Linked DNA regions of Homo sapiens. The protein of the gene in region 1 interacts with the protein of each later gene in a pairwise test. Each region holds a gene or a part of one and is shown on either strand. Other genes may lie near its edges.

Region 1 (4,555 bases):
AGCTGGCGTTGACCAGGTCCACTAGACGGCCCTGGTCCAGCTTGTCCAGGCTGCGCACCCGTAGCATTCGCTCGGCGTTCTTGAACAGGGTCCCGGACCCTGGAGGAGGATGGGGAGGGGCTAGTCTGGCTGGAGGGCCGTTTGCGCAGCCTGGTGGGGACTGCAGGTAGGACAGGCGCTGGTGGGACAATTTCCGTCTTTGGGAGACCTCCACAGTGAAATGATTTCAGTGGTCTGCATAGATTTGTCTGTGATTTTCATTCAAGGAGATGCTTTCCCCAGGCAGAGATTGTGCCCCAAGTTCCTCCTGTCGCCTGGAGCCCCACCCACTTCCGTTAGTCTTGCCTCGCTCCTTGAAGTCTGTCTCCCGCCGCTGACCCGGCCCACCCACCTAAGCCCCGCCCATCTCTCCCGGTCGAACACCTCCCTTATGGTCCCGCCCCTGGCCCCGCCCACCGGGGGGCCCCTCCTTCTCCCCCCTAGTCCCGCCCATTCCTTTAATTCCTTCGGAGTTCCCTTCCAGTACACTGGGTCTCCTCCTCTCTCACCTCCCCCGGGTTTCGGCAGCAGCAGGAGCCATTGCTGTGACACCCCCCGCCTCCCCCTACGGCTCCTGGACAGGAGGAGAAGCCGCTCCTCCTGACCGCAGACACCCAGCCCCGGCCAGTACTCACTCCCGGGACCCAGTCCCCGGCCCGCCCACCGCCCTCACCCTTGTTGCTAAAGAGCTCAGTGAGCAGCGTGCTAGCGGCGGTGATGACGGCCGAGGAGTGGTGGGGCAGGCGGCTGAGCACGTCCACGATGAGCCGCATCTGCTGCCGTTCTTTTGTGCTCACCCACTCGGCGTTGCACACCAGGTCCAGGTCGGCGGGCAGGTTCACGTTACTCAGGACCTGTGTCCGGAGTCAGCGGGTGAGCCTGGCCCACAGCCGGCACGGACTGCCCCCCTACCCCCACGGACCTCTCTTTTCTCTGACCCCTTTATCCTTACTTCCGCCCGGAGTCCTTAGCCAGGGAGGGCGCAGATCTGGGCACCCAGGGCTGAACTCCTCCCCTATACTCCCTTAGGCTTTTCTACCCACCCGGCTTGCTAGTGAGTCTGCGGCCCGTCGGGGAGAAGTGCGAGGGGCGCAAGAGAAGGCCCGGATCGCCGGCGTGGGGGAAGGTGAAAGAAAGGGCCGCACCTTATGACTGCTGTCGCGCAGGCCGCCTGTGTTATTGAGGAAGATGATTTTGGTGGGCCGCAGCGCCTTGGCCAGCGACGCGGTCACCTCCAGGGAGTCGAGAAGCACGGAGCGGCGCGCGGCCGTCTCCCCGATGGGGCACAGGATGGGGATGCTGCCCGACTCCAGGCACCACTGCAGCAGGTCTGTCTCCACCGAGACGATGCCGCCGTAGCTGTGGGCCAGACGTGGTGCTCGAGAGGGCCCCCTCCAGGCCTGCCGGACGGGGCAGGGCGGGCAGAGTAGCACGCTCTGAGGACGCCTGGGCGGGCAGGGCGGGCACTCACCTGGCATGGGGAGCCGGCTCGGCAGCGCGTAGCACAGACCCGCCGCCAAAAAATGGCACAGCAGCGGCGGCGTTGTGTCGAAGCGCGTCTACCAGCACCTTGCAGCTCTTGGCCAGCTGCGCCTTGGCCTCCCAGAAGGAAAGACAGCCCGAGGGAGCCGTAGGGGCCGGCAGCCCCAGGACCACCAGCGGCTTCATGTCCATGCGCTGCAAGAAGGCCAGGGCAAAGGCCAGACTGGATACGCCCTGCTGGCACTTGAGCACCTCCTCGTCCACCTGCGGAGGAGTGGGCTTTCAAGGAGCGTGACACGGACCTGAGCCGCTGGCTCCCACAGCCTGGCCTGCAGGGCCGTCTCGGTGACCCTACCCTTCCAGAAGCTGTCAGGACCCAGTTCTGGCCACCAGTGCCCACCTGCTCCGCCCTTTGCCCCGTTGGGTCTTGCCACTCCCTTGTCTCACGCTGGGGTACCTCCCGCCCTCCTCCCTCCGACCTTGGACTCCGGGACATCTTTGGGGGAGGGGCAGTGCAAGCGGCTCCTGTCCAGGTCCTTCTGAACCCCTAACTGCGCCCATGTTGGGGGCCTTCTTCAGAGCATCACACCTGGCGGGTGGGGTCCCCCAGGATCCTCACTCGGGCTGGGCGGGAGGCTTCCGGAGGAGCTTACGGCCTCTCCCATTCCCGGCGGCGCTGGTCTGGGCCCTGCCGGGCTCCTTCCCGCTTCCGCTGCGCAGAGCCCGCAGCGTATCCTGCCATGCCTGAGGACAGGTGGCCGCACAACCCCATCCCCTCGCTGCGTCACGGCCCACGCCGGGCTCCGCTCACCTCGATGACGGCGAAGGGCTTGTCCGCGGAGTGATGGCAGGTCTGGAACTGCGTGAGCCAGTGGCGCGCCTCCCCAGGGCTGGCCCCGCACTGGTTCAGGAAGGCCTGGATGTCCCGCTGCACCAGCGAGCGGCCCGAAGGAGGCTCTGGGGACTCGTGGGGCACCGGGGGCCTGGGACTCGGCACCCACGACGGCTCCTCGGCGACGGGCGACTGGGAGACGTCGTCCGCGCCCGCGTACTCCTCGGGCGGGGGCTGGGGCTGCGACCAGGCGGTGCTGAGCCGGCGCCCCGGGCTGGTGCCCCTCGCCGCCCGCCGCCGCGCGCCACAGCTCAGCCTTCGGGCGCCCCCAGTGCCTCCCCGGCCTCTCAGCCTCGGGGCTACAGCAGCTGCCCGCAGAACCACAGCCATCAGCGCCGTCGCCATGACGACAACCAACTCTTGCCCCCCAAGAGTGGCAGTCTGTCTGGAGCGTCTGGCACTGGGGGGCTCTTAACTTGCCGTTGGGCGGGGCTGGACCTGGTCGGGGCGGGGTCCGGACAGGGGACCAGGAGTCTCCTCTGGGTGCGTTTGAGGAGGGTCAGGCCATGAGTCAGGGGGCGGGGCCACTAGGCTCCCCCGCCCCTGGAGGAACTGAACCCACTATCGGTCATGGGGCCGAGACTAAATGTGGCGGGTTGTCTTTAATCTGCTGCCAAGGTAGGTTCCAGGGGCGGCTTTGGGAGTCTGCAGGGCCTTGGATGATTGGCATTCTGACCAGAGAAGAAGGGACTGTAGGTGGCTTTGAGCACAGGGCTGGGCAGGGGGCTGGAAGGAGGGCGCTGGAAAGAGTAGAAGAAGGGGGGCAGTGGGAGGGCGGGGGCGGGTGGTGCTGGCCTTGTCTGTCCTGTTGCCTGAGCTCAAAAAAGATCCTAATGAATGACCATGAGGTTACCAGGGTTTGCCAAACTCCAGTCACTGGGTACCAGCTTGAGGAATTCTGTGATATCCTCAAAACACCCCTCAAAACTTATAATACTTTAGTGTTAATGCTTTTCTTTATCGAATATCACATCTGGTAAAAATAAAATAAAATAGAGTTTTTTATTTTGGTTTTTGAGATAGGGTCTCACTCTGTTGTTGCCCAGGCTGCAGTACAGTGGTGCAATCATAGCTCACTGCAGCCTCCACCTCCCAGGTTCAAATGATCCTCCTGCCTCAGTCTCCCTAGTAGCTGGGACCACAAATGCACACCACCATGCCCAGCTGATTTAAAAAAAAATTATTTTTTTTGAAGACGGGTGTTCACCATGTTGCCCAGACTGTTCGTGAACTCCTGAGCTCAAGCAGTCCTCCCACTTCTGCCTCCCAAGGTGCTGGGATTACAGGTGTGAGCTACTTCACTCGACCTCTGTAACCCTTTTTTTTTTTTTTTTTTTTGTTTGTTTGTTTGTTTGAGATGGAGTCCCACCCTATTGCCCAGGCTGGAGTGCAGTGTTGCGATCTCGGCTCACTGTAATCCCCGCCTTCTGGGTTCAAGCGATTCTCCTGCCTCAGCCTCCTGAGTAGCAGGGATTACAGGCAGACACCATCACACCCGGCTAATCTTTGTATTTTTAGTAGAGACAGGGTTTCACCATGTTGGCCAGGATTGTCTCAAACTCCTGACCTCGTGATCCACCTGCCTCAGCCTCCCAAAGTGCTGGGATTACAGGCGTGAGCCACCACGCCCGGCCCTCTTTAACCTTTTTAAACTTAAAGTTTATCCATGTTAGGTCTGTAACTAGGCCAGTATCACTTGCCATAAGCCTTAAGAATCAAGTGAGGAGGCGGGTGGGTCATTTGAGGTCAGAAGTTCAAGACCAGCCTGGCCAACATGGTGAAACCCCATCTCTACTAAAAATACAAAAATTAGCCAGGCAGTAGTGGCATGTTTCTGTAATCCCAGCTACTCAGGAGGCCAGAGAATCACTTGAGCCTGGGAGGAGGAGATTGCGGTGAACTGAGACTGTGCCACTGCACTCCCGTCTGGGCGACAGAATGAGACCCTGTCTCAAAAAAATTAAAATTAAAATTAAAATCAAAATTAAAAAAGAATCAAGTGAGAGGAAAACAATGTTATTACATTCCATTATATTCCATCTGCATAGCTTGCCTGCTTTCTTGGTAACATGGAAGGTTAGCAGGTGCCATGTGTTAAAGATACCCTAGCACCAAGCAAAGCCTTCTGTGTGGTAGAGGAAT
Region 2 (3,518 bases), on another chromosome or scaffold:
GAGCTTAGTATTTTACAAAGACCACTCAGACAACTGTGTGGTGGACCACTTGGAGGCAAGAGGTGAGACCAGATGAAGCAAAGGGACCCAGAGAGGAAGAAGGGTTCTCTCAACAGTCTCTTAGTAATTAATGTCAGCCCTAGACCACCTAACTCACAGTACAGTGAATTCCTCATGATTCTTACCCCATTTTACAGAGGAGGCAACTGAAACCCAGAAAAGGAAAGTCAGCGTGTCTAAGTGATAGAAATGGGAGTAGAGCCCTGGTGATTCCCTCCTGCCCATTCTTCTGGTATCCCTTTTGTGGGTGAGCTGGGGATAAGGGGCACCATTGAACTGTGCCCCCAGGTGGACTGAAGAATGCATGTGGCCGCAGGGCGTGCTGGTGAAGCACAGCAAGAACGTCTACAAAGCCGTAGGCCACTACAACGTGGCTATCCCCTCTGACGTCTCCCACTTCCGCTTCCATGTGAGTCTCCTCCCCGGGGAAGGAGGGTTGGGGCCTGAGAGGGTGGGAGGATCTGCAGGGCAGGAATGTGATGTCATTGCAAGAGAAAGCTATTTTCAGTATTTCCCCAATCCAAAGGAAGACAGTGCACACATGTAGCACAAGGACAGCCATATAAATTGTCACTTAATAACTGCAGCTCGGCCGGGCATGGTGGCTCACGCCTGTAATCCCAGCACTTTGGGAGACCAAGGCAGACAGATCACCTGAGGTCAGGAGTTCAAGACCAGACCAGCCTGGTCAACATGGTGAAACCTCGTCTCCACTAAAAATACAAAAATTAGCCAGGTATGGTGGCGGGCGCCTGTAATCCCAGCTACTCGGGAGGCTGAGGAGGGAGAACCACTTGAACTCAGGAGACGGAGGTTGCAGTGAGCCGAGATCATGCCACTGCACTCCAGCCTGGGCAACAGAGCAAGACTCATTCTCAAAAATAAATAAATAAATAACTGCAGCTCATTTGGTTGTAGATCTTTGAGAACATTGGACAGAGGGAGAGAAGATGATACAGTAAAAGAAGGGGCTCTTGGCAGTGAAAGACAATACTGTCTTCATTTGTTACTGTGTGCCAGGCATGTCGTTAAGCACTCTCCATGTACCTTCCTACTCAGCCTTACCCTGAACCTTGTACGTGAAAGATATGCTAGGGTTATCTCTGTTTTTAGATACTGAAATCAGCTAAGAGAGTTTAACTTGTTAAAGGGTGCCTTCTTGGGAAACTTGAGAACCTAATGGTAATGACTCATGACTTAGCTATGGAAAGGGCTGCTCAAAATTATCTAAACTAGTGATCTCTATTTTTTTTTAAATTTCACTATGAAATCCCCTCCCCCCCTTTTTTAAAAAAAACAATCAGAGGCCAAAATCCAATATATGGGACATCCTGGCACTGCTCTGTTTGGAGGAGTTAGAACCCCCTTCACTTCCTGCTCACCCCCGCTGTAACTCCTAAAGGATCCCCTTGAAACCTGGGGCTCTAAGGAACACAGCATGAGAAATCACTGACCTAGACTGATGTCTTCATTTCACAGTTGAGACATCCAAGCCCCAGAGAGGAAAGGGACTTGACCAAAGTATTGCAGCCTGTTAGGTGCAGAGCTGAGCCTGATATCCTGGTCTCTTGGCCTCCCATTTCCTACCACTTCTCCTGTCCTGTAAGCAGCTCTTGAGATTTAGGTACCTTGGCCCCTGTGGAATCAAAATCCCTAGACACTGTGCACTCTTTTGAACTCATCAGAGATTTTTTTTTAGTCCCTACGTTCTACCTTGCTGTTGAGAGTGAGCTGTTGCCATGTCCCTTGGCAGCTTCCAGCCTAGCTAGGGATGTACCTATGAAGTAGTAGGTAATTCAGGCTGTAGAGTCTGTAATAACTTTCCATGCCTATGTCATAGGATTCTAATTTGTTCAGGCCCAGCAATACCCAGGAGATGACATTAAAAGGTGTTGATTTTATTGAGGGTCAGTGGATGAGGGAGAAAAAGTTTTCAAAAATTAAAAAAAATTTTTTTAAAGGTGTTGACTTTAGACCACAAAAAGAGTTTGAGAGAGCAAGCAGAACCTGTCAAGAAAGACTTCCTAGGGGAGGTAGAAGTTGAACAGGATCTTAGATGACTTACATCAGAAGCAGCAGTCCTATCAGGAGGAATACCACAAGCAAAGGCAGATGAGGTGGCAAAGTCCACATCCAACCCCAGAAAGTCTTCTTCCCCACCCATGTCTGCATGGGGCCCCAGGAGGCTGTCCCCTTCACTGGCCCACCCAGAACCCCCATCCAGGAGGAAGATTTCTGGAGCACACCTTTTAGCCATGCCCACCCGCTTCCGGGCAGTTCTTTTTCAGCAAACCCCTGCGGATCCTCAACATCCTCCTGCTGCTGGAGGGCGCTGTCATTGTCTATCAGCTGTACTCCCTAATGTCCTCTGAAAAGTGGCACCAGACCATCTCGCTGGCCCTCATCCTCTTCAGCAACTACTATGCCTTCTTCAAGCTGCTCCGGGACCGCTTGGTATTGGGCAAGGCCTACTCATACTCTGCTAGCCCCCAGAGAGACCTGGACCACCGTTTCTCCTGAGCCCTGGGGTCACCTCAGGGACAGCGTCCAGGCTTCAGCCAAGGGCTCCCTGGCAAGGGGCTGTTGGGTAGAAGTGGTGGTGGGGGGGACAAAAGACAAAAAAATCCACCAGAGCTTTGTATTTTTGTTACGTACTGTTTCTTTGATAATTGATGTGATAAGGAAAAAAGTCCTATTTTTATACTCCCAACAAGCCTGTGTCCTGTGGTTCTTTTCCTTCGTGTGTGTGAGACCTATTACAGAGGTGTGGGATTCTGGTTTAGGAAGCCCCAACATGTGGCTTCTGAAGCCTCTGTGGGTACTGCCTTCTTCAGTAGAGAGGAGATGAGAAGGCACTGGAGGCCACGGGAGCAGTGATAGCTACTGCGAACTGAATGCTCACTGTGTGCCAGATGCTGCTCTGTGTGTATTTCAGGCCTTGCCTTAATCTAACTTTTATGACAACCCTAGGAGGAAAGTGCTATCACTCCAATGGATGAAGAACTGGAGCTCAGAGAGTTATAGTGACTTGCCCGTAGTAACACAGCTAGGAAGTGGTAGAGCTGGACATAAAACCTCTGAAAGGCCGGGCACAGTGGCTCAAGCCTGTAATCCCAGCACTTTGGGAGGCCGAGGTGGGCAGATCACTGAAAGCCAGGAGTTCGAGACCAGCCTGGCCAAGATGGCAAAACCCCATCTCTACTAAAAATATAAAAATTAGCCAGGTGTGGTGGCGCATGTCGGTAGTCCCAGCTACTTGGAAGGCTGAGCCACGAGAATCGCTTGAACCTGGAGGCAGGGGTTGCAGTGAGCTGAGATCGCGCCATTACACTCCAGCCTGGGTGACAGAGCAAGATGCTGTCTCAAAAAAAATAAAATAAGGCCGGGCGCCATGGCTCACACCTGTAATCCCAACACTTTGGGAGGCCGAGGCAGGTGGATCACCTGAGGTCAGGAGT

Evidence for each region.
Region 2: the proteins of NAGS (region 1) and TMEM39B interact in a two-hybrid assay, tested with the Homo sapiens proteins (one large-scale study listed by IntAct).

What each region holds. Positions count from the first base shown.
Region 1 is NC_000017.11:44,002,867-44,007,421, reverse strand, and holds the start of NAGS (N-acetylglutamate synthase, mitochondrial), read right to left. Parts: upstream 2,801-4,555; 5' UTR 2,759-2,800; coding exon 2,333-2,758; exon of another isoform or gene 2,111-2,332; intron 1,786-2,110; coding exon 1,511-1,785; intron 1,399-1,510; coding exon 1,185-1,398; intron 894-1,184; coding exon 713-893; intron 100-712; coding exon 1-99. UniProt on the Homo sapiens protein: Plays a role in the regulation of ureagenesis by producing the essential cofactor N-acetylglutamate (NAG), thus modulating carbamoylphosphate synthase I (CPS1) activity.
Region 2 is NC_000001.11:32,100,094-32,103,611, forward strand, and holds the end of TMEM39B (transmembrane protein 39B), read left to right. Parts: intron 1-197; exon of another isoform or gene 198-348; coding exon 349-469; intron 470-647; coding exon of another isoform or gene 648-818; exon of another isoform or gene 819-978; coding exon of another isoform or gene 979-1,014; exon of another isoform or gene 1,015-2,021; coding exon of another isoform or gene 2,022-2,120; exon of another isoform or gene 2,121-2,337; coding exon 2,338-2,580; 3' UTR 2,581-2,770; downstream 2,771-3,518. UniProt on the Homo sapiens protein: May protect the cells against DNA damage caused by exposure to the cold-warming stress and facilitates tissue damage repair during the recovery phase.